3 separate regions of the Homo sapiens genome follow, and all the other regions are linked to region 2. The links come from fine-mapping of genetic effects on gene expression. A gene starts in region 2. Each other region holds a variant in brackets. All regions are shown on one strand. Distances are between the middles of the regions. Region 1 has its middle 7.0 kb from the start of KCNF1. Region 2 holds the start of LINC01954 (long intergenic non-protein coding RNA 1954). Region 3 has its middle 18 kb from the start of NTSR2.

Region 1 (8,179 bases), 26 kb before region 2:
GCCTGCTCAGCTGAAAGGGCCACACGGTTTGGAGGTGAGGCTGGCAGGCCTGAGGCTGGTGGAGTCAGCTGGAAACAGACCCCGGAGGGTCTCAGCGGCCCTGGAGGCATCTGGACCACAAGTCAGCACTTCATACTTTAGGTCGTGGCTCAGTAGCTGGCTGTGAAATTAACGTATTGAGTATTAGAAAATAACAGAGAATATCAGACGTGGAAAAATAAATACGGCTTGAATCAGGTCATAGCAGCCAGAGGCTGACTCTGACTCCAAGTCCATTCAGCAAATCCCAGGCCCAGTGGGGAGAAAGCTGGTCTGGTGCAGAAGTGGGAGGGGAGGGGCAGCAGATGCAAAGCCCAGCAGAGAGAATGTCCGCACACAGCCCACAGGAGAGCAAGTGCCCAATGACAACAGGGGCAAGAGAAAGAAACAGCTGTAAATAGCAGGTCAAGGCTGGAGGTGCGAGACCAGCCTGCAGCCAGAAGCCAGGGGAGGGAAGAGAAGAGGCAGAGACACAAATCCTGCTCTGTGAGGATCAGCCCTGTATCCTTAGATGGGGGAGCAGAAGGCTGGCATTCATGTGCCCCTCAGTTTCCCGGGCTGTTAAATGGGTGACATGGACTTACATATTCACACGTTGTCATTTGTTGAATAGCATAGTGAACAGAGAGGCTACAGGTGGAGGCCTTGCCAAGCTCTGACACTTACTGGTGGTATGAGGCTGTGGGTTCAACTGTGTCCTCTCAAAAGATATGCTCAAGCCTTAAACCCGGCCCCTGTGAATGTGACCTGATTTGGAAGTTGGGTCTTTGCAGATGTAAGTGAAGATGAGATCACCCTGGAGTAGGGTGGGCCCTAAATCCAATCACTGGTGTCCTTGTAAGAAGAGACACAGATACACAGGGGGAACACCACGTGGCAACACAGGCAGAGGTTGGAGTGATGCTGCCACAAGCCATGGTACAGCAGGGACTGCCGGCAGCCACCAGAAGATGGGAGAGACGCATGGAGCCCTCTGAGTCCCCAAGAGGGAACCAACCCTGACGACACCTGGATTTTGGACTCTGGTCCCCAGAACTGTGAGAGCATAAATTTCTGTTGTTTTAAAACCACCCCAGTTTGTGGTATTCTGTTACGACAGTCTTAAGATACTAACACATGTGGCCTTAGGCAAGCTGTAACTTTTTTTTTTTTTTTTGAGTTGGAGTCTCTTTCTGTCGTCCAGGCTGGAGCGCAGTGGTGTGACCTCGGCTCACTGCAATCCCCGCCTCCTGGGTTCAAGCAATTCACCTGCCTCCGCCTCCTGAGTAGCTGGGATTACAGGCATGCGCCACCATGCCTGGCTAATTTTTGTATTTTTAGTAGAGATGAGGTTGCACCATATTGGCCAGGATAGTCTCATCTCCTGACCTCGTGATCCACCCACCTCGGCCTCCAAAAGTGCTGGGATTACAGGCGTGAGCCACCACCTCGACCTCCAGAAATGCTGGGATTACAGGTGTGAACCACCACGCCGGGCCGGCAAGCTGTAACTTCTTTAAGCCTCCAATTTTTCATCTGTGGAATAAGGAGACTGCCACAGTACACGGTGATGGGGCTACAGAATACAGTGGGGACTCAGTGCTAGAACAGGTGGGGACTTGGTGCTGGAACAGGTGGGGAGCAAGTGCTGGGACAGATAGGAACCAGATGCTGGGACAGGTGGGGGCCAAGTGCTAGGAGAGGTGGGGGCCCAGTGCTGAGACAAGCGGGGACCAGGTGCTGGGACAGGTGGTGACCAGGTGCTGGGATAGGTGGAGAGCAGGTGGGGACCAGCTGCTAGGAGATGTATGAGCCAAGTGCAAGGGCTACCCTGGAAAAGGGAGGCTCTGAATCAGCGTGGGGCCTAGGGGAAAGCTCACAGAGAAGGTGCATGCACCCGTCTTTTGAACCGGCAGGGGTGGTTCTTACTGCATTCCAGGCTCTGTTCTGGGCGCTGAGAACAGAGCAGAGATGAGATGGACGAAGGTGCTACATCTGCAGAGCTAGAGGATTTGTGTGGAGACCTCAAAGCAGTGCCAATTGTGAAAGATGACTGCTAGGCCAGTGACTGAAGGGACATCTGGGAGCCTCCAAGGGGACATCTGGGAGGCCTGGCTGTCCAGGGAGGTCCAGCCTGTCCAGTGGAGCTCTCAGAATGACTGAAGGGCTCCTTACCCACACTATCCAGTACAGTAGCCGCAGCTGCACATGGCTGCTGAGTGTTTGGCATGGGCCTAGTGCACCCGAGTAGCTGAATTTTTATTTCAATTATATTTGATTTTTAACAGCTTTGTTGAGATGCACTTCACATTCCATACGATTGATACACCAGTGGCTTTTAGTGTATTCAGAGCCGTGCAGCTATCAGCACTGGTTCATCTTAGAACATTTCATTACCCCCAAAATGAATGCCACACCTTTTAGCCATGACCCCCAACCTCCCCCTGCCCTAGACACCCACTAGAATACTTTTTGTCTATGAATGTGCCTATTCTAGGAATATCATGTAAATGAAATTCTATAATATATGACTTTTTGTGACTGGTATCTTTCACTTACAACTTACCATGGATTTTTTGTTTGTTTGTTTGTTTGTTGTTGTTTTTGAGACAGAGTCTCACTCTGTTGCCCAGGCTGGAGTGCAGTGGCACAATCTTGGCTCACTGCAACCTCCGCCTCCTGGTTCAAGCGATTCTCCTGCCTCCCTAGTAGCTGGGATTACAGGTACACGCCACCACATCCAGCTACTTTTTGTATTTTTAGTAGAGATGCGGTTTCACGATGTTGACCAGGTTGGTCTCAAACTCCTGACCTCAGGTGATCCACCCATCTCAGCCTCCCAAAGCGCTGGGCTTACAGGCGTGAGCCACCGCGCCTGGCCACTTAACGTTTTTAACGTTCATCGGTGCATGGCATGTGTCAGTACTTCATCCCTTTTTATGGCTGATCATATCCGTTGCATGGATAAGCCAAATTGTGGTGATAATCCCCTGTGGTCAGTGGCTGCCATGTTGGGCAGATGGAGTCTGGGGAAGCTGAGCCAGGTCAGGTGGGCGTGGGCAGTGAGGAGTAGGGCCAGGCCTCCCAGGCAGACAAGGCAGTAGCATAGACAGAGGCAGGAAAGTCCCCACCAGGGTTCCAGGCCCCGCACTGCACTGGTCTCTGCATGCTCCACGCTAACTGTGCCCTCTACTGCAGTGCTGCCCTCACCCGTCCCTGGGGTCATTCTTTCCACCCTTTCAAAGCTCAGTCCTCAGTGTCACCACTTCCAGGAGGTCTCCAGGGACTGCACCCCTCTCCAGCCCTCCTTTCCCCAAGGGATCAGGGCCCATTCCCTATGTGCTCACAGAGCCCTCAGCTGTCCTATGGCACAGGGTCAGTTCATGCACCACTGGTTTGTCTGCCCCCAACTCCAGCCCCAGTACAATCTGGATTATTCTTCTCTGTGACGGTGCCCAGCATCGGGCCTGGACATGCAGGTGCTAGGCAGGCATGTGGAGGGAAGGAATGAGAAAATGCTTCATTATGCCCAAACAGAACCCACATAACTTTGAAACCACAGGACCTTCATGGTCTCTGATGAGCCTTAATTTGCTCAGCTGTCCCACAGAGCCAGGCTTCAGCAGTGTCTGGGGCGTGGCGGTGAGAAAGACATGGTCCCCTGGGCATGCCCCAGACTTGTGGGCAGACTGATGGGAGGTGAAAAGCACCTGGGAACTGAGCAGGGCTGGGCCGTGGCTAGAGAGATTTTTGGGGGTCAGAGGATGGTCTTCCTTCCACGGTCAGGACACAGGCATTTTCCCTTTACCCCTGCATGCTGCACACCCCACCTCCTCATCAAACCCTGGCAAGTCCACATTCTGGTCTACTGACATGCCCAGGCCCAGAGTGCCCCACACCTGGAATCCCACAAACTCCACTTGTCCTCCCAGGCCAGAGCAAACGGAGCCTGCAGATCAGGTTGGCTGACTCCTTGCCCAGTGCTCTCCCCAAGCCTGTACTACTGCCTCTGTTATGGACTGAATGTTTTTGTACCACCCCCTCCAAATTCGTACGTGGACGCCCTAACCCCCAATGTGATGCTATTTGGAGATGGGGCCTTTAATGAGATAATGAAGGTTAAATGAAGCCATAAAGTTGGGGCCCCAGCCCAACAAGATTAGTGGCCTTAGAAGAAGAAGGTAGAGAGACCTTGCTCTCTGTCTTCACCACGTGAGGGTACATTGAGAAGGTGGCCATCTGCAAGCCAAAGAGAGAAGCCTCAAAGAAATGAAACCTGCCAG[C/A]ACCTTGATCTTGGACGATAAATGCCTATTGTTGAAGCCTGAGGTCTGTGGTGCTTTGTTACACGGCCCAAGCTGACTAGTACGTTCTCCTTCCCTCACACTTGCTAAGTGCCGCCTCTGCCTTCCTCTTCTCAAAGCTCTGGAAACAGGCCCTTTGTCCTCTGACCATATAGATCCTGTTTGGAAAGGCGAGGCTGGGATCCCATGGATTAGGAAAAAAAGAGAAAAATCAACATGCTGCTTTCTCACTGAAGGTCATTGTTGCATAGAAACTTGAGCCAGCAGCCTGGATCCATTTAGAATTTCCTGAAGGGTTAAACCAGAAAAAAAAAAAAAAAGTCTGAACTTTTTGGCTAAAAATGGAAAGCTTCTTGCTGTGATGTATTCAGTCCAGCATAGACCTTCTATGAGAATTATACATTTCATGATGCCATGGGGGAAGGGACGTAGAGCACAAAATCTATTAGACATAGAAGAAGCAGCAATTTTACCTTGCGGGTTTCTTATTTAAATAAAGGGTGGGGGAACAGTTTATTTAGGCATAATGGGAAGTAGTTGTTTGAGCTGCATTTTCTCATTAAAAATTTTTTTTATTTGTTGAACAATACCATTTTGGGCTACAGAATGCTAGATTTCTATGGCAGTAATTAAAACCAGTGCCTGTGTATCTAAGTGATTTGTCTAGACGGCAAATGATGCAAGCTGTAATCTATTCCTTTTTATGGGCTAATCAGTTCTGCTCAGTTAAAATTTCCTTGTGTTTTGCTGAATTGAATAATACCTTTCATTAAGATTCAGTTCCCTCTCCCTCTCCCTCTCCCTCCCCCTCCCCCTCTCCCTCTCCCTCTCCCTCTCCCCACGGTCTCCCTCTCCCTCTCTTTCCACGGTCTCCCTCTCATGCTGAGCCAAAGCTGTACTGTACTGCTGCCATCTCGGCTCACTGCAACCTCCCTGCCTGATTCTCCTGACTCAGCCTGCCCAGTGCCTGCGATTGCAGGCTCACGCCGCCACGCCTGACTGGTTTTGGTGGAGACGGGGATTCGCTGTGTTGGCCGGGCCGGTCTCCAGCCCCTAACCGCAAGTGATCCGCCAGCCTCGGCCTCCCGAGGTGCCGGGATTGCAGACGGAGTCTCCTTCACTCAGTGCTCAATGGTGCCCAGGCTGGAGTGCAGTGGCGTGATCTCGGCTCGCTACAACCTGCACCTCCCAGCCGCCTGCCTTGGCCTCCCAAAGTGCCGAGATTGCAGCCTCTGCCCGGCCGCCACCCCGTCTGGGAAGTGAGGAGCGTCTCTGCCTGGCCGCCCATCGTCTGGGTTGTGAGGAGCCCCTCTGCCCGGCCGCCCAGTCTGGGAAGTGAGGAGCCCCTCTGCCCGGCCGCCATCACGTCTGGGAAGTAAGGAGCATCTCAGCCCGGCTGCCCATCGTCTGGGATGTGAGGAGCGCCTCTGCCAGGCCGCCCAGTCTGGAAAGTGAGGAGCGTCTCCGCCTGGCCGCCATCCCACCTAGGAAGTGAGGAGCACCTCTTCCCGGCCGCCATCCCATCTAGGAAGTGAGGAGCGTCTCTGCCCGGTCGCCCATCGTCTGAGATGTGGGGAGCGCCTCTGCCCCGCCGCCCCGTCTGGGATGTGAGGAGCACCTCTGCCCGGCCGCCCCGTCTGAGAAGTGAGGAGCCCCTCCGCCCGGCAGCCGCCCCATCTGGGAAGTGAGGAGCGTCTGCGCCCGGCAGCCAGCCGTCCGGGAGGGAGGTGGGGGGGTCAGCCCCCCGCCCGGCCAGCCGCCCCGTCCGGGAGGGAGGTGGGGGGGTCAGCCCCCAGCCCGGCCAGCCGCCCCGTCCGGGAGGGAGGTGGGGGGGTCAGCCCCCCGCCCGGCCAGACGCCCCGTCCGGGAGGGAGGTGGGGGGGTCAGCCCCCCGCCCGGCCAGCCGCCCCGTCCGGGAGGGAGGTGGGGGGGTCAGCCCCCCGCCCGGCCAGCCGCCCCGTCCGGGAGGGAGGTGGGGGGGTCAGCCCCCCGCCCGGCCAGCCGCCCCGTCCGGGAGGGAGGTGGGGGGGTCAGCCCCCAGCCCGGCCAGCCGCCCCGACCGGGAGGGAGGTGGGGGGGTTAGCCCCCCGCCCGGCCAGCCCCCCCATCCGGGAGGGAGGTTGGGGGGTCAGCCCCCCGCCCGGCCAGCCGCCCCGTCCGGGAGGTGAGGGGCGCCTCTGCCCGGCCGCCCCTACTGGGAAGTGAGGAGCCCCTCTGCCCGGCCACCACCCCGTCTGGGAGGTGTACCCAACAGCTCATTGAGAACGGGCCAGGATGACAATGGCGGCTTTGTGGAATAGAAAGGGGGGAAAGGTGGGGAAAAGATTGAGAAATCGGATGGTTGCCGTGTCTGTGTAGAAAGAAGTAGACATGGGAGACTTTTCATTTTGTTCTGTACTAAGAAAACTTCTTCTGCCTTGGGATCCTGTTGATCTGTGACCTTACCCCCAACCCTGTGCTCTCTGAAACATGTGCTGTGTCCACTCAGGGTTAAATGGATTAAGGGCGGTGCAAGATGTGCTTTGTTAAACAGATGCTTGAAAGCAGCATGCTCGTTAAGAGTCATCACCACTCCCTAATCTCAAGTACCCAGGGACACAAACACTGCGGAAGGCCGCAGGGTCCTCTGCCTAGGAAAACCAGAGACCTTTGTTCACTTGTTTATCTGCTGACCTTCCCTCCACTATTGTCCTATGACCCTGCCAAATCCCCCTCTGTGAGAAACACCCAAGAATTATCAATAAAAAATAAATAAATAAAAAAAAAAGATTCAGTTCTGTACTCCATTGAAAATTTACATTTCATTTTTTGCTGTGTACCCATCGGTATCAGGGAGCTGCCCCGTCCCCACCCCCGCTCCTTCTCCTCATCATCCCCCTCCCCTCATCATCCCCCTTCCCCACCTCCACCAAGAAGAGCTGATTGACAGAAAGACCCAGCTGGTCTACTCCTGTCTGAATACCATGGCCCCTGGAAGTCAAGTGCATGAGGCAGCTGGGTGGGAGGCGGTGCTGGATGGAGGTGGGTAGAGAAGGATGTCAAACTGAATCATCAGGAAACTTCATTTTTTTCACCCCAGCTTCTAAGCATTTTTTTTCTTTTCTATGCCTCAATTTTTTCATCAGTAAAATGGAGCTAATGACTCTTTCCTTCCTGGCTATAAGATCTTATAGGAACAAATACATTATTGGGCATGAACAGCTTTGTAATCGACAAGCTGCTGAACCTGCCAAGGCCAAGAAGAGCAGGGGGAGGAGAGCGGGAGGGGTGACTTCCTTGTTCCCATTCCCGAGGTGGGCACGTTTCCTGAAGTCTGCTCGCCTCTGCCTCTGCTTCCCATGGCTTCTGTTCAGCCATGACTCATCCTGCCTGCAGGCAGGTGGGAGGACCGGGACAGGGTTGCCACACACCCCAGATGTGTAGAAAGATGTCAGAGGCTTTGGGCGCATTCAGCTGCCCCAGAGGCTGCGGGTAGGACCCCTCTGGGCCTGAGATCTGGGAAGAGAGAAAAGCAGTTAGGAAACAAGACCAAGAAGGATAAATGTTCCTGCCTGTGGCCTGCCAGGTTGGAGTAGTGGGGCGTGGGGCTGCTGTTGGCTTTTGTGCTTGCTTTTAAAGCACACTAGGAAAGTAAACAAAATGATTGAAGAAAACTCTTCAGAAACAAATCCTTTCCCATTTTCCTTTACTTTAATTGCAAAATTGTTATCTATTTATTGTAAAAAAAAAAAAATGTAATGTGAAAGGAAGGCTTTTATTTACATCCCTGACTTCCGTCTTGCCCAAAGGTCAGAATGATACACAGTCTATCAATTTTCTGTTACTGGGTACAAATTACATCAAACATAGAAGCTTAAAGT
Region 2 (8,179 bases):
CTGGTGTTTCCCAAGTCAAAAGCAGCTCTGTACCCTGCATTGCTGTGTTCCCATCTCAGCAATCCTGTGCATTATTTTGTTTTGGAAAGATCCAAAAACAAGAGAGAAATAAACTTCTATCACGCAGACAACCCAGGGAGGGAGTGATCTGTTATGAGGGAACTCAGTTTCTGCTAGGCCTTGTGTTCAAAGTTATATGCAGTTTCCAGCTTAGTTTTCCTAATGATGATGGAAGAGATGACAACTATTCCAGGTTTACAGAGAAGAAAAATAAGTTCAGAAAGGTGACATGATGACAGACTCCCAGGCCAGTGCTCCTGTTCCACAGCTGTTCCACAGCTGCCTTTTCTGATGGCTGTGAGTTGTGGGGTGAAAGTCCTGGGGAGGGGAGCGGTTCTCTAATTCCAGCTACTCGGGTGGCTGAGGCAGGAGAATCGCTTGAACCCAGGAGGTGGAGGTTGCGGTGAGCGGAGATCGCACCACTGCACTCCAGCCTGGGCAACAAGAGCGAAACTCAGTCTCAAAAAAAAAAAAAAAAAAAAAAGTTAAGATCCATAAGATCCAGCCATTCTACTCCTAGAGGAAAAAATATAGATGTCCATGTCAGGGAGGGGAACAACACACACTGGGCCTGTTGTGGGGGCAGGAGGAGGGAGAGCCTTAGGACAAATAGCTAATGCATGCGGGTCTTAAAACCTAGATGACGGGTTGATAGGTGCAGCAAACCACCATGGCACATGTTTACCTGTGTAACAAACCTGCACATCCTGCACATGTATCCTGGAACTTAAAATTAAATTAAATTAAATGTTAACAATGTATAGATAGATGTCCATGTAAAGACTTCTGCATAGATGTTCAGAAGAGCTGTATTTGTAATAGACCCAAGTTGGAAACAGCCCAGATGTCCTTCAGCAGGTGAAAGAATGAACACACTGGCATATCCACACCAGGGAATACCACTCGGCAAGGAAAAAGAGGGAATGGCGGACACAGTCAACAACATGGATCACACTCAGAGGTATAATCTAAGTGAAAGAGGTCAGATACAAAAGGCTGTTGTATGATTGCCTTTATGTGCCACTCAGAAAAAGGCAAAACCATTAAGGACAGAAATCTAAGCCACTGTTGCCAGGAGCTGGGGATGGGAAGAGTGATTGAGTTCAAACGGGATGAGAGTGATCGCTTGGGGGTGATGAAAATATTCTGTCTGGATTGTGGATTGTGGTGGTGTTGACACAACTCTATACATTTTGCAAATCTTACAAAACTGTCCAACTAAACTTCACAGTATGCAAATTACACCTCAACAAACCTGACTTTAAAATTTTTTAAGTATTATCATTACCATATTCAGTGATGGTTTCCTCCTTTTTTTTTTTTTTAGCAAAAGCTTATCACTAAAATGAGAGAAAAAGAGCACTATATATACCAATTTCTGCTGATTAATCCATGACTAAATGCCATATTTTTGTATGGAGGGCTATAAATAAAGATTTCTATCACACACACGGTGCATGCGTGCACTGTACCTGATGAGGAACTTTTAGAGCCCCTGCCTCTATGACAGTCGCTGGCACAGAATGGAGATGAGGAAAGTGGCTGTTATCATGCTCATGATGCTGTTTCTCATGCTCGTGTCACTCGCCACAGCCACAGACACATGCGGAAGGCCGGCAGGGCCAGTATTATCATTGCTTCTGTTTTATAAATGTGAAAATGAAGTGAAAGATCTTACCAAAGGTCACACGGCAGGTCCATGGCAAACCCTGAACTTGAATCCATGTCTTTATACCACAGACAAAGTCATACATTTCCATTCATCTTCTCTCCAAAAGCAAGGAAGTGAAAGCCAGGCGGGAGGCGGGGGTATGGACTTAATTGTAAGCCCTGTCGAGGGAAAAATTCATGGGCAGGAAGTAAGCTTGTTACAGACCGTGGTCTGTTCTGGGAGCTTCCGCAAACCAGCTCTGGCGAATCTGAAAAGGCCGCCCACTCCTTCGCACCGGGAGCCTGTGAGGTGGTGCGGGCCCAGATGTGACCAGGACACACTGGACGTTGCTCAGCGGTGGCCTCCACACCAGGTCATGAGGCAGACAGAGTTCCTGGGAGTTTGACATCCTGGACCCAACCCGGCCCAACCCACACTGGCTGCATTTTGAAGCCACCAGGCAGCCCCTGGGCCCAGGACGGCCTGGGAAGGGAGGGCTTGATGAACAGGTCCCCACCCTCCTCCCTCCTGTGTCCCCGTTCTGCGGCCGCCTCCTTTGCCAGGGCCCCAGGTGGCGCCGGACTCCCCTTCCTGCCCTAGAGGCCTCCTCTACGGCCCTGTCCCCATGGGGAGCTCCATCCTGTTCACCACAGGAAGCATTTCCCAAAGGGAGCTGCTCCAGCCACCAGGTCTGAGGGATGGTGGGTGGGGCGGGTGGGGAGGGGGCATTTTCAGAAAGAGTTCTGAGGAAAAAAATGACTTCTGTGGGAAATTCCAGGTTGAAGCGTCATGGGTTGAATCGTGCCCCCTCCGAAAGCTTTGTTGAGATTCTAACCCCCAGTGTTACCACTAGAGGGTCGTGACGGCAAGCTGTCCAGGTTCTTGGCTTTTTGAACGAAGAATTGGACAAAACGCCCAGCAAAGCAAAGAAAGAATGAAACAACAAGAGAACGAAAGGAGGGATTTATTGAAAATGAAAGTACACTCCACAGTGTGAGAGTGGACTGAGCAGCAGCTCAAGAGCCCAGATCTGGAATCTTCTAGGGTCCAAATACTCTCTACACGTTTCCCATTGGCCACTTGGTGATCATATTATGTAAATGAAGTGCTGGCCCACAATTGGTTGCTTTCTGCAACCAATCAGAAGCTGAAATGAAGTTACCAAGATCACGCTCCTGTGCAAACATCTGATTGGCTGCAAAAAGCAACCAATCAGAGGCTAAGATGAAGTTGCAAAGTTGCATTTCTATGCAAAGGAAGACTCAGCGGCCCGGCAATCAGTCTGACTGGTTGCGGAAAACCAATTTCCCATCTGTGGTGCAGAAAAGGTGGGGGTTTTGCACAGGGAGTAGCCTCTGGTCCTTTTGTTACTTAGTCCTGGAAAGTTAGGTGTTTCCTTTCAATTCAGTTCTAGGAAGTCGGCTTGAAACGGCCTTAGGTTCCCCGCCTCCAAACCCTATTCTCCTGCCTCACCAGCACCTCAGAAGGTGACCTTCACTGGAAACAGGTTTGCTGAAGATGTGATTAGTTAAAATAAGATGTCCTGCTGCACTAGGGTGTGCCCTTAATCCAGTGTGACTGTGTCCTTAGGAGAGAGACACACAGAGACACATGAGGACAGAAGCAAGCCTGAGGTGCCACGGATGCCACAGACGTCACAGACGCCATGGACTGTCAGCCACCAGCAGCTGGAGGAGCAGGAAGGACCCTCCCTAGGCCTCCAGATGGGGCACGGCCCTGCCGATTCCTGGATCTCAGACTTCCGGCCTCCAGAACTGTGAGAGAATCGATGTCTGTTGCTCAAGCCCCAGCGTGGTGCTTTCTTACAGCAGCCCCAGGACACTGGGACACTGGGACACTCACACACACAACGTCCATAACCATTTTACTTTTCAGAGACTTGAACAAGCTAACCTGCAAGAAGTTCCAAGAAGGAGGAGGCAATCACCCCCTTGTCTCCATTTATTTTACCACAAACCTTTTTCCTCAAAAAAACTCAGTGTGCCATGAAACGTACTTTGAGAAGTGGGGGTCTTTGGCATGCATCTGTGGTACCCCAGGAAGGTGACATAGAAGGAGGGGCCAGGCAGGGACCACAGAGTCTGGGTGCCCCTCCAGAGAGGGTGTCTCACCAAGCCACAGGCCAACACCAGGCCCCGCAGAGACCCCTGCTCGTGCTCAGTGAATGAGTGGGCACCCCGACTAACAGGAATTTCATCCTATTGACAGACAACCGACCCTCTGCCTCTGGACCAGTGTAGGGGTTCACCCCAAAGGGAGGCCCCACCAGACATTTGCTCGCCTCCCTGGCCTCAACTCCCAGGCCTCCCCAGCCCCTTGCCCACCCCAGGCTTCCGTGACACCAAGCTGCCACATGCCTTGCCTTCTCTGCTCTGGGCCTTCTCACACATTGTTCCTGCTGTCTAGAATGACCCCCTACTCTCACTCCAATTCCACCTTTTGTCTGCTGACTGGATCGCCACTCATTCATGAAGGCCAAGTTCAGGGACTATGGACGCCCCTCTCAGGCCACACCTCCCCACCCTCTGCCAGCACCTTCCACAGTGAGGGCCCTGACAGCTCCTCCACCCTGGTGTCCAGGCAGCTTCTCGCAGTGAAGAGAAGATGAACTTCAACATGGCGGTAGCAGTTCACGCTGACCTTCTCCCTTGGCCTTGGGCAACTTGCTTTGCCTCTTCAAATTTCTGTTTTCTCATCGATAAACATTATCTATGAGCCAGATGTTTGTGAAAATAAAATAGCGTATTACTGATAGGTGCTGGACATCTAGTCGGTGTAAATAAAATTGCGTTGTTATACTGTTGGTAACATAGGATTTGTCCGGGGGCAGCTGGACCGGGAGCTCCTTGAGGACAGAGGCGGTGGGTGTGCCGCTCCTCTCTGCAGCCGAGCCCCCAGTCCTCCCAGAGTGAATGTTTGCTGACTGCACGAGGGAGCCATCCCCTTGGAGGCTCAGCAGGGTGTGGGCTGTGTTGTCAGCCCTTCCTCCTCCTGTTCACAGCCTTCCCTTAATGACTCAGGAGCACTCCCGGCAGCATCCCCTCTTACAACACACTGCCTTGCTCCAGGGTTGGCGATGGGATCGTTCCCCCCAGTTCCTAGAGCCTAACAGCACCTAGAGCACTGTGATTCTGCGTCTGATTCTGAGTCGTGGGGACATGAGCATCAGGGGTCTCCCCCAAGCACTCCATTTAACATTCACCCCCACGCTGGCACCATCAGCCGAGCAGATAGCATTTCCTGTCTCAGAACGTTCTTGTCATTTGTTTAAGCAAGTTGAAAACTGCTGCACCAGATCCCACTGAAAGGAAGTACTCAGAAGTCAGGTGGGTTGGGAAGTCGGGGAAGAAGGTCCCTCCCTTTACATGTCGTAATTTTTTCTGTTTTCTAAATTTATTTATACTGGATGTTCTAACATGCTGATAAAAGCCATCTACAAAAACATGCATTCATTAAACAGATATTGGGTACCTTCTATTCACCAAGCTCTGTAATGGGGTAATGGAGTCAAAATTAAAATTAAAAATTCCTACCCTTAATAAATATATTGATTAAGGTACACATTAAATGGCTAGAACAAAAAACGCCCCTACAGACAATGACCCAAACACTATAAGAGTTTGTTTTTCTCTTTTGTAACAGTCCCAAGGTGACTTCCACTCCACAAGGGCATTCCAGGAATCAGCTTCCTTCTATCTTTTTTTTCTTGCTGAGGTATAACTTACATGCAATAGGCACATAAATCTTAAAAGAATAGCTCAATCAATTTTTATGTGTGTATACACCTGTGTAACCACCACCCAAGTCAAAGTACAGAACTTTTCCAGCACTCAGGCTAGGCATGGTGAGTCACGTCTATAATCCCAGCACCTTGGGAGACCCAGGTAAGAGAATCACTTGAGGTCAGGAATTCAAGAATGGCCCGGGAAATCTAGTGAGACCCTGTCCCTATAAAACATAGAAAAAATTAGCTGGGCATGGTGGCTTTCACCTATAGTCCCAGCTACTGTGGAGGCTGAGGCAGGAGAATCACTTGAGCCCACGATGTTGAGGCTGCAGTGAGCTATGATTGTGCTACTGCACTCCAGTCTAGGCTACAGAAGAAGACCTTGTCTCAAAAAAAAAAAAAAAGAAAAGAAAAGAAAAGAAAAAGAATGCTTCCAACATTCAAGTTCCTCCTGTCTTATTGCTTTGTAATACCCTATGGTGTTATCTTCATTCCACAACAAAAACTCACTCATTTTATCACCTCTACATTTCAACCCACAGGAAAGAGAGAGAAAAAGGAGGAAGGCATGTAATTTCCTAATTTAAAAAACAAACGGTGATCTGGAAGTTGCAGAGATTGCTTCTGTCACACTCTATTAGCTAATTCTTAGTCTTATGACTATACGAGCTATAAGCATAGCTGGGGAAAATTGCCTCTAGTTGGGCAACCACATAAGCCAAATAAATTCTTGAGTTTTTATTACAAAGAGGAAGTAGGTGTTATTTCCATTTTATAGATGAAGAATCTGAAGATCGGAGAGATGAAGTGGTTTGCTTTAGCTGAACTGAATTATACACCAAAGTTTGTCTGATCCCAGAGTTAGTTTCCTAACACTTGTCTTTAAATTAACAGAAAGGCCAGGCATGGTGGCTCACACCTGTAATCCCAGCACTTTGGGAGGCCGAGACAGGCAGATCACCTGAAGTCAGGAGTTCAAAACCAGCCTGGCTAACATGGTGAAACCCTGTCTCCACTAAAAATGCAAAATTAGCTGGGCATGGTGGCACGTGCCTGTAATCCCAGCTACTTGGGAGGGTGAGGCAGGAGAATCACTTGAACCCAGCAGGCTGAGGTTGCAGTGAGCCAAGATTGTGCCACTGCACTCCAGCCTGGACAATAGAGCCAAACTCCATCTCAAAATAAATAAATAAAGGCCAGGCGTGGTGGCTCACGCCTGTAATCCCAGCACTTTGGGAGGCTGAGGTGGGTGGACCACCTAAGGTCGGGAGTTCGAGGCCAGCCTGACCAACATAGAGAAACCCCATCTCTACTAAAAATACAAAAATTAACCAGGCATGGTGATGCATGCCTGTAATCCCAGCTACTCAGGAGGCTGAGGCAGAAGAATTGCTTGAACCCAGAAGGCAGAGGTTGTGGTGACCCGAGATCGTGCCATTGCACTCCAGCCTAGGCAACAATTGCGAAACTCCATCTCAAAAAATAATTAATTAATTAATTAACAGAAAGTTTCAGTTGAGACACCTATATCTAAGAATACTTAAGCCATTAGCATAGACATAATAGCCTTACGTTCTGTAGCAGAGCAATTCAGAAACAATTGAAGTTTGTATAAAAATTTCTGTTAAGTTTCGACTTCCAGTATGGTGACATGAGTAGCTCCTGGACCTGCTCCCCAGTGAAACTGGTGAACATTATTTTTTTAAGAAACCAACAATTTAAATTCTCTGGTAATAGTCCCAAGGGCATGAGTAAATGAAACATTTACTCAAGAAAATCTGCAAGAACTCAGTAAGAAGAGTGAAAATTTGTGGTATTTGAACCACGACTTACTCTCTCCTCCCCTAGTTCCACCTCAGAGTGACTGAAATTCCACTCCAGACAGGTGCAGCCAAGAACACAGAGCTCTGTCTGGCTCACCCACCCGCAACACACAGCTCTTAGTTGGAGAGCTATGGTGTCTTCCTGCTTGCCTGGAAGGAACAAGATGTCAGCATTTCTCATTCTGCCCCCAATCCCTTGCGGCAGAGGCAAAGCTCTGGGCCAGTACAGCTGAAAGGAGGAGGCTTCCTCCAAGCTGAGGCAATGCCAAACACAATGGAGGCTGTGGTGAAAAGCAATTAGGAGAAGACTAGTAGATTCATTAAAGATATAAGCTAAGCCATAGGTTGGCTAGTTTTCCAGCAAGAACCAGGAAAAGAAGCAGATAAAAAGATCTCTCCTAGAGTAAGAACAAATCTGAAACACTGACCTTAAAAACTATCCCTCAGAGGCCGGGTGTGGTGGCTCATGCCTGTAATCCTAGCACTTTGGGAGGACGAGGTGGGCAGATCATCTGAGGTCAGGAGTTTGAGACTAGCTGGGCCAACATAGTAAAATCCCGTCTCTACCAAAAATACAAAAATTAGCCAGGCATGGTGGCTTATGCCTGTAATCCCAGCTACTCGGGAGGCTGAAGCAGGAGAATTCACTGGAACCCAAGAGGCAGAAGCTATAGTGAGCCGAGATCGCGCCACTGCACTCCAGCCTGGATGACAGAGCAAGACTCCGTCTCAAAGAAAACACAAACAACAACAAAAAGCTATCCCTCAGAGAGGTTACACCCTATCAGTCTTTGTGTGCCACCATCCCCCTCTTTCTCGGTGCTACCTAGAGTGGTGGCAGCCATCTCTTACTCGGCATCATGGCCACCCTCAGACCCCTTGTGAAACTCAAGATCA
Region 3 (8,179 bases), 810 kb before region 2:
GAGAAGCATTTGATAAGATCTTTCATGATGCTCTAAAGGATAGTTGGATAACCTGGGTTGGGTAATAGTGTATCAAGCACAGCATTTAGACATTCCTATTTCTAAGAAATATGGAAATCAACTTGGATGGAGGCTTCTCATGCCAGGCCACTGGCTCTATTCTTTCTTTCCTTCTTAGATATTTGATCAATATTGAAGTGGGAGAGAAAGCATGCTTGTGGCTCATGGTCAAGATGGTATAGTGAACTTGTATTTTGAATCACCCCCTCTGATCCAAGCCCACAGTATATCAATGGATAAGCAAATATGACATAGCCGGGCTCCAACAGCAGTCAGTGTGCAAGAACCAAAGACAGATTAGAAGTGTGCATGGTGAATGGAGCTGAAGCCACAGGCCCGGCACAGTCTCTGGCCTGGAAAGAGGTAATGGCTGGAGGTCAGCACCTGAGGAGGAAAGCATAGATGGGACACGGGAGCCAGGCTTCACACTGAAGGTAATCCTGGGAAGGGATTTCCTATGCTGGTGAAAAGAGGCTTAAACATGTCTGCAGCCCTACTGCTTAGGGCCAAGGCAATAGAGGGAAGTGACCCAACCTTTCAAGCAGGAAGGAAACCAAAGGCTGCTTCATTCAGAGCCCAGATTTCCCCATATCACTGTAAGACGGGAGCTTGGAAGTGCTGTTATAAGGCCTGGCTCTGGACTGTGCCCCCGGACCTGGGGAGGCAACTACAAACCACAGGACTGAGGGTGGACCCTCAAATCACCCAGCCTTGTTGCTAGAGAACAAAGGACTAGGAGTTGGTGTGAGGGGTATTAAAGGAGAGAGAAAAAAAAAAAAAAACCACAACAAGATTTTTAAATCCACTCAAAATGAGCCCTCAAGCAAAATGTCTAATGCTAAGGACAGCACACAAAATAAATATTTGGAATATAGACTTACATCATGATGTATCCTATTTTCATTTAACAGTCATTATCAGGTTATTGAACAATCTGATAATGACTGTTAAATGAGAATAATTGAGATACATATAGACACAGATTAAGGAATAACCTCCATTAAAAAGAGAAATTATGAAACAGAAACATATCAAAAATTAAACAATGAAATAAAGGAAAAGAATCTATTAGAAATACTGGAAATGAAAAACATAGTCATTGAAATTAAAACATAAATATCAATATAGTAGATAAAACCTAACAGGAAACATAAAAGAGAGAATTAATGAAGTAAAATATAGTAAGGAAGCATCCAGCAGGCACAGCAAGTCAAAGAGATTAAGAAAGAAGTAAAACAGCAGCTAGGAGGCATGGAGGATACAGTGAGGTTCAAATTTGTGTCTAATCGTGCCAGAAAGGAGAATTAAGGAGATCACAAAGAAGAAGTTGTTGAAAAGATGTTTGAGAATCTTCCAAAATTGATGAACGAGTGATGAGTAAAAAAGCAGACTCTGAACACTAAGAAGAGTAAATAAAAATAAATCTACACCTACACATTACAGTGAAACACAGAGCACACATGGCAAAGGATAATATTTAAATGTCTCATGGAAGACTAATGCTTTTTTAAATATTGAGGGAAAGCAACTGTTGACCTATAATTTTATAATGAGCTAAACCACCATTCAAGAAAAGAAAGTGCAAAAAAAAATACATTTTCAGATAAACAAAAACTAAAGGAATTTGTCTTCCATAGACAGTCCCTAGAAGAACCATGAAATCATGAACTGAGACAAAAGGTTTGGGATGCAAAAAGTGTAGATAAAGATACAAGAGGTTGGACATATTATAATTAACATTTTTCTTTTTTTTACTGAAAACAATAACTGAAATTTTTAGGTTTTCTTTAAAACAAAAACTAAAACTCTGGACAAGACTAATAAAATAAGGGTGTACCCAATGGTTTTCAAAGTGAGCTGAGGCCTAGGCCCTGTTTGGCAGGAGTATAGAAGTAATAAATAAATTCAAACTGTGTTAGACAATATTTGTTATACAGGTATGTTTTCTTTTCTTTTCTTTTTGAGACAGAGTCTCACCCTGTCACCCAGACTGGAGTGCAATGGCACGATCTTGGCTCACTGCAACCTCCACCTCCCGGGTTCAAGAGATTCTCCCTCCTCAGCCTCCCAAGTAGCTGGGAATACAGGCACCCGCCACAACACTCAGCTATTTTTTTGTATTTTTAGTAGAGATGGGGTTTCGCCATGTTGGCCAGGCTGATCTTGAACTCCTGACCTCAGACAATCTGCCTGCCTCGGCCCAAAGTGCTGGGATTACAGGCATGAGCCCCCATGCCCAGCCTATAGGTATGTTTTCAAAAGCTAAGGAGAACCACTAAAAGAATATAATTTTGTTCTGTGATTATGGAATTAACTGAGCAAAAACAGAAAAGAGGATAGAAAAATTATATTTTAAAATTATAAATTCAACAGAAGTCAAGAAAAGAAAGCAAGTCAGTCAGATTTTTAAAAGTCACAAAATCAGTATGTTGGATAACAAAATCAAAATCTGAAAGGACCTCGTCAGGTCTAAAACCAACAAGATGATATTGAAGACAAATATACTAAGCCTCAAAAGTCCATTGTAGAACTTCCAGATGGCAAAGCCTTAGCCATCAGCAATTCATGCGAAAAAATCAGAATACTTTGAAACGACCAGGGCAGTTCATTAATCTCTCAAAGCTCCTCCATGTGTAAACTGAGGCTAAGAATCACCTGTGTGTTTCTTACAAGGATCGGTAGGACAAAATATGGAAAATGTCTCATAGGGCCCTGGCATGGAGAGAGAGCACTCGGTAAACAAAAACAATAATCAACCTGGACATTGTTCATTTTCGAAGCACTTCGAATTATCCATAAATTTGGAATAAGTCGTGTTTGCAAAATACCATTATACAAGTCGGCTGCTCAAATTCAGTGTTCAGCATAGAAGACTTGCTGTTCCTTTTCTTTGTATCTGGTGACCTCTCACCCAGTGGGCATTTCTAATTGGGTAGAAACTAGAACTTGATCCCGTCTTGCTTCACCATTAACTGCGAAGTGCCTATCAAATGGCTATTAATAACTCAATTTCTGCCTGGGTCAAATCAGGTGAAGAAACCGACTAGCCAAGTCCCTTTCTCCTTTATTTTGAACTGTTTTGAAACTCAAATCACCTTATCCTTAGATAAAGAGAATTCACTCAAGAATTTCAACAAAACTCTCTTATTATCGGCTGAAAATGTTGTATGTATTAACTCATTTTCCATTTGTCAACACTCCCCTGTGGCGAGGGGCCCTGATTCGCGCCGGTGCGTCCTGTCCCGGGTCTCAGCGTGACAGCGCCCTCTAGAGGGTATTTCTGGGCCAGGACACCGGGACCCGAGCGACCGCAAGATGTTTCTGCGAAGGGCTGCACTTTTACGGGGTAAATGAGGAACAGGCGGGGCCTGAAAAATACAGCAGGGCGTGGAAACTGGATCCTCCCAGCCACTGCCATGCAGA[G/A]AGTCTCAGTCCTGAAGTCTGAAGACTGTTACTCCGTGCTGCTCTGAAAAGAATTCTAGCCTGCAACTCCAGAGTGGTAGCTCTGGGAGGTTACTTCCTCTAGGAGTTTCAAAGGATGTTGCAAGGAGCCCTGGGGTGACTGTGGGGAGAGGGAGGGTGGAGCTGGCAAGGAGGTGGCAGGGTTGATGTAGGAAAAAGAAAGGAAGCTTGAGAAGGGAGGGCTCCAAGCTCTCCGTCCTTTTATCTCCAGCAGTTGCTCCATTCTTATTCCATTTATAGACAGGGACCTGCAGATATTTTCAGCTATAACAAGAATTCCGCGTCGGAGAGTGAAGCATTGAGAACTATGGAGAGGCTCAACTCCCTGGGCCACCACTGACACTCAGAGTCCCTCCAGGCAGAATTAACAAAGAGGACCTCTGGGTGGACAAATTTCAACAAGGTGCCCTTTCCCCTTCAATGTCCCAGCCAGCTTCAGTCCCAGAGCCCGGAGGGCGTGATGAGTCAAGCACAGGTTGGGTTTCAGCCCCCGGTGTCCTCTCGGCCAGCACACCATGCAGACCATAAACTGCAGAGACTTAGCTGCGGCCCTGCCATGGCCTCATTTAATAAAAGTGCATGTCACAAGCCACCCACCTGATAAGGCTGGTCTCCAATGCTGCCTCCCCCGTGAGTGTTGGTGAGCTTGGCTACTTTTGAGGGCACCCCTGTGCTTGCAGCATCCACACAGGGTCTCACGCAGTCTATGGACAGCCCTATGGGGAAGGTGTCATTGCTACAAATGTATTGCAGGCCTGGTCAAAACCACTTGGTCAGGGATAGAGCCAGATTCTCTGAACTGTTCAGATTCTCTGTATTTCTCTCCTACTAAATGCAATTCTCCCCTCTACAGAGTCTCATTCTCTTCATCCTAGTAATAACAAACTCTTCCCAAGTTCAGAGACAAAGCCCCCTGTCCCTGCCTTGCTGTCCATGCTATAGGAGATATCACATCCGCCTGCCCCTCCCTGAGCCCAGCCGCAGAGCAACTTACAAGAGTCTCACAGTCGTATTTATTTCAAACTTTCAGTATTATTTTCTTATATACTTTATCAAGGCCTAGAAGGATCTCAAGAAGCATGATGAAAAACAAAACTGGGTAATAGAATTGTTTAAAAACAGATCAGGATCAGGACCAGGCCCAGTGGCTCACGCACTTTGGGATGATCACTTGAAGACGGTAGTTCAAGACCAGCCTGGACAACAGAGCAAGATCCCATTTCTACAAAAAAATTAAAACTTAGCTGGGCATGATGGTGTGTACCTGTTGTCCCAGCTACTTAAGAGGCTGAGGTGGGAGGACCACTTGAGCCCAGGAATTCGAGGCTGCAGTGAGCTGTGATCACGCTGCACTCCAGCCTCAGCAACGCACCAAGACCTCATCTCAAAAAAAAAAAAAAAAAAAAAAAAAGGATCAAAAGCTATGACATGGAGCAGGATTCAGAATGCTGGGAGGGAGTGGAGAGAATGATTCCTGAAATCTAGACCACAGATAATCCTGCCTTTGAGCACCAAACAAAACTCTGCCCCCAGCAGCTGGGGCAGAAGAGGAAAGGTGAGTGCCTGGGCTCTACTTACCCACAAAAGGACCCATATCGATTAATCACTAATGGACACACATTCCAACTGCAAACACTGTGAGGGGCGTATTCATGGGTCCTCACATAGGAGTGATGAGAGCAGAAGGTGAGCGTCAGACCCCCTCGGAACACAGCCACAGGCATCTCGTTGCTCGCTCGCATGAGAAGGAGAGTGCTCTTTCCCGCGGGTGTGTGCTCTGCCCGTGGTGCCCAGGCCATGGCTACCCACCCTGTTCCTGTCCCTTTAAACGAGGACAACCCATCCACAAAAGTCACCACACAACCTCTGTCCAGGGCCAATACACACAGGCCTCAGGTGTGCCAGACCCTCCAGCACCGTCCTTCCCCACCAGCCTCCATCTTTCCCGGAGTCCGTCCAACCCAGCGTTCTAGCCCTCCTCTCCTGTTTCACCCTGGGGGCTAACTACAGAGCACCTCTTGATTGCTCTTGGGCCCACCCACTTTCTGGTTCCCCCTTCTCCAGGCACATCCCACCCACGCTGGGCAGGGCTTTCTCAAAGGGACAGCCCAGGGGCTGTGGGTGATCACATGATAAGTGCCAAAAGCGGGGTCGGGGATCCTCAGCACATTGATGAAGCCCAGAACAGGCCAAAGCTCACCAAAGACCTAGGCACGCTCACCTGGTCATTTCATTCCTGCATCTGTTTCTTCAGCAAGTTCCAGGCGCTTGCTGTGTGCCAGTGGCCCATCCCAACATAACCACAATGGAAAGTAGGGGCCAAATTCTAAAAGCGAGCTGCTGTGTGGTTGAGAATGTAGGTATCCCACCAGCTGGGGGGTTTCCAGGCGGCTGGAGAAGGCTGCACTTACACAAGGCCTGGAAGGGTCACTGGACATTGGTGGTGGCAATCTGTCTCCCAGGATGTCCAAGTGCTCTATCAATTGAATGCAACCCCAAAAGAAGAAATGGGGTTGGATAAGCAGAGGCACGGGGAGAATGTGAAGGGCTGAGAAAAGAGAAACAGAGGGAAATCTCTGGAACGAGAAACAAGACCAAGTGTATTCCAAATCTAAATGCAAAGGGAAGTTCAAAATGGTACCTGAGTTTACACACATTCCTCGATGGGAAATCAGGAAGTGACTGTTAGTCTTAGCTCTGCCATAGGCATGCCTAGAAAAGACACCTGCTACCCTCTGGGGGGACTCGGTAACCCGTCTCTAAAACAAAAGGATGCACCAGATCTGGAGTTTTTAAACTCTGTATTTCAGGGACTGAAGTTGTATCTCCAGCCTAGATTTCTCATCTGAATTCTGTTAAAAGGTAAACTGAGGCACAATAAAATTCTAAAGAGTTTATTCGAGTAAATGGTTCAAAACCCTTCTCTGCTACCACCTAGTTCAAACCACCATCCCCTCCCACTTGGATTATTGCAACAGCCTCCCAACAGGTCCATCATGTCTGCCCTGCCCCGAAAGCCCAGGAGGTGGGTCCCCTTAACATGACACCCCAAGGTGGGGTCGAGGCCAATGCCTCCATGCTGGCCTGTGCTCCGCCAGCCTCCACACCGCTCTCACACCATCTCCTCCCACTTTTCCCGTCCTCTCAGCTCTGGCCACACTGGCCTCTTGGCATTCCTCAAACCTGCCAAGATGCTTCAGCTTCAGGACCCTTGACACCTCCTGAGGCCTCCGCTCACTCCTCAGCTCCTTCAAGTCTTTGCTCACATGTCACCTTCTCTGTGACCTCCCCAACCTCCCCATTGAAAATTACGTCATCCTCCCGTCTCGGGCTCCCCGTTGCCTTTCCCCATTTTCTTTTTCTCCACAACCCCTCTCCCCATCTGACATGCATGTTACTTAGACACTTGCTTATTCTTTTCTCCCCCACCTGGACTGTAAGCTCCAGGAGGGCAGGATGTTTGTTTTATTCACGGCTCATTTCCAGTGCTTAGAAGAGTGCCGGCCACAGTGTCGCCTAGTGAATATTTATTACTAGAATAAGCAAATGAGTGAAAAGACAATAATCTTTTACAATTTTCATTTCAGGGAGCATGCGTGGTAACTGACATAAGGTTGTCAACTTTTAATCTTAAAAAATGAAAAACAATGGAAGGAAGGGAGGGAGGGAGGGAGGGATGGAAGGAAAGTATTTTTCTTTTCATAAAAGATACTTTAACCTCCCCAAAATAGAAAATGCCTTCTCCCAGGATAAATAATAGTCTTTCCCAGGGAATTTGAATGGGCCAAGTCACATGAACATATCTACCCCACAACATTGTCTTATTTTCTTTGTTCACCACGGGTCAGTGAAAACTTTGGCACCAATACTCCATGCCAACCACCCTCCAGCTCTGTGTTACTCTGGTTCTTCCTTCAAAAACAAGAGAGTTGGGCACAGTGGCTCATGCCTGTAATTCCAGAACTATGAGAGGCCAAAGCAGGAGGATCATTTGAGGCTAGGAGTTCAAGATCAGTTTGGGCAACATAGAGAAACCTTGTTTTTACAAAAACTTTAAAAAAAAATTAGCTGGTTGCAGTGGCACACACCTGTAGTCCCAGCTACCTGGGAGGATGAGGTGGGAGGATTGGTTGAGCCCAGGAGACAAGAGAGTCCATCACCCTGGCTGGCCCTTGCTCTAGCAGACACACCTGCTTACTACGTCAGAAGCAGCCTTGGCACTGGGAAGGGTGGGGGCTCCAGCTCCAGAAGCCAGCCCAGACCCAGAGCTGCCATTCGGATCACAAGAGACAGCGTGATACCTGCCAGAGGTTCACAGACTGTACAGTTCACACTGAATTTTCACTAAATGGATACTTTGCCTGGCAGCTTCTTCTAATCCACCTTTCATGCAGCTGCTATGAGAAAAGTAAGAAGACTCTTCCGAGCTCACCTCACTCACCCCCATGCTGGGCTGGTAAAGCAGCGTCATCAGCCCCAGTTTAAAGATGAAGAGCCCAGGGCTGGGAGAGGCTCAAGGCAACTTGGGCAAGGTCACAGCTCAGTTTAGAAGCAGCAGAGCCAGGATTCCAAGCCAGGGCACCTGGATGACAAAGCCTGGCTTTCACCACACCTGTCCCTTCCTCAGGTGCAGCAGGATGTTCACATAAACACCAGC

What was found. PIP is the estimated chance that this variant, and not a neighbour inherited with it, causes the effect.
Region 1: its variant is fine-mapped to the expression of LINC01954 in atrial appendage (GTEx, PIP above 0.99). The same link has a PIP of 0.9 or more in left ventricle.
Region 3: its variant is fine-mapped to the expression of LINC01954 in Th1 cells (Schmiedel 2018, PIP 0.95).

Annotation. Positions count from the first base shown.
Region 1 is chr2:10,900,851-10,909,029 of GRCh38, reverse strand. No RefSeq gene overlaps it. Among named protein-coding and RNA genes, the nearest start is that of KCNF1, 7.0 kb to the left of the region's middle. RefSeq lists enhancers at 1-51, 6,591-7,161. The variant C/A (reference allele first, on the strand shown) is at 4,302.
Region 2 is chr2:10,874,533-10,882,711 of GRCh38, reverse strand. LINC01954 (long intergenic non-protein coding RNA 1954) reads right to left here and starts at 4,445. Exons shown (of 2, transcript NR_110575.1): 1 at 4,268-4,445.
Region 3 is chr2:11,683,748-11,691,926 of GRCh38, reverse strand. It overlaps a transcript of LPIN1 not described here. Among named protein-coding and RNA genes, the nearest start is that of NTSR2, 18 kb to the right of the region's middle. RefSeq lists an enhancer at 3,517-4,016. The variant G/A (reference allele first, on the strand shown) is at 3,484.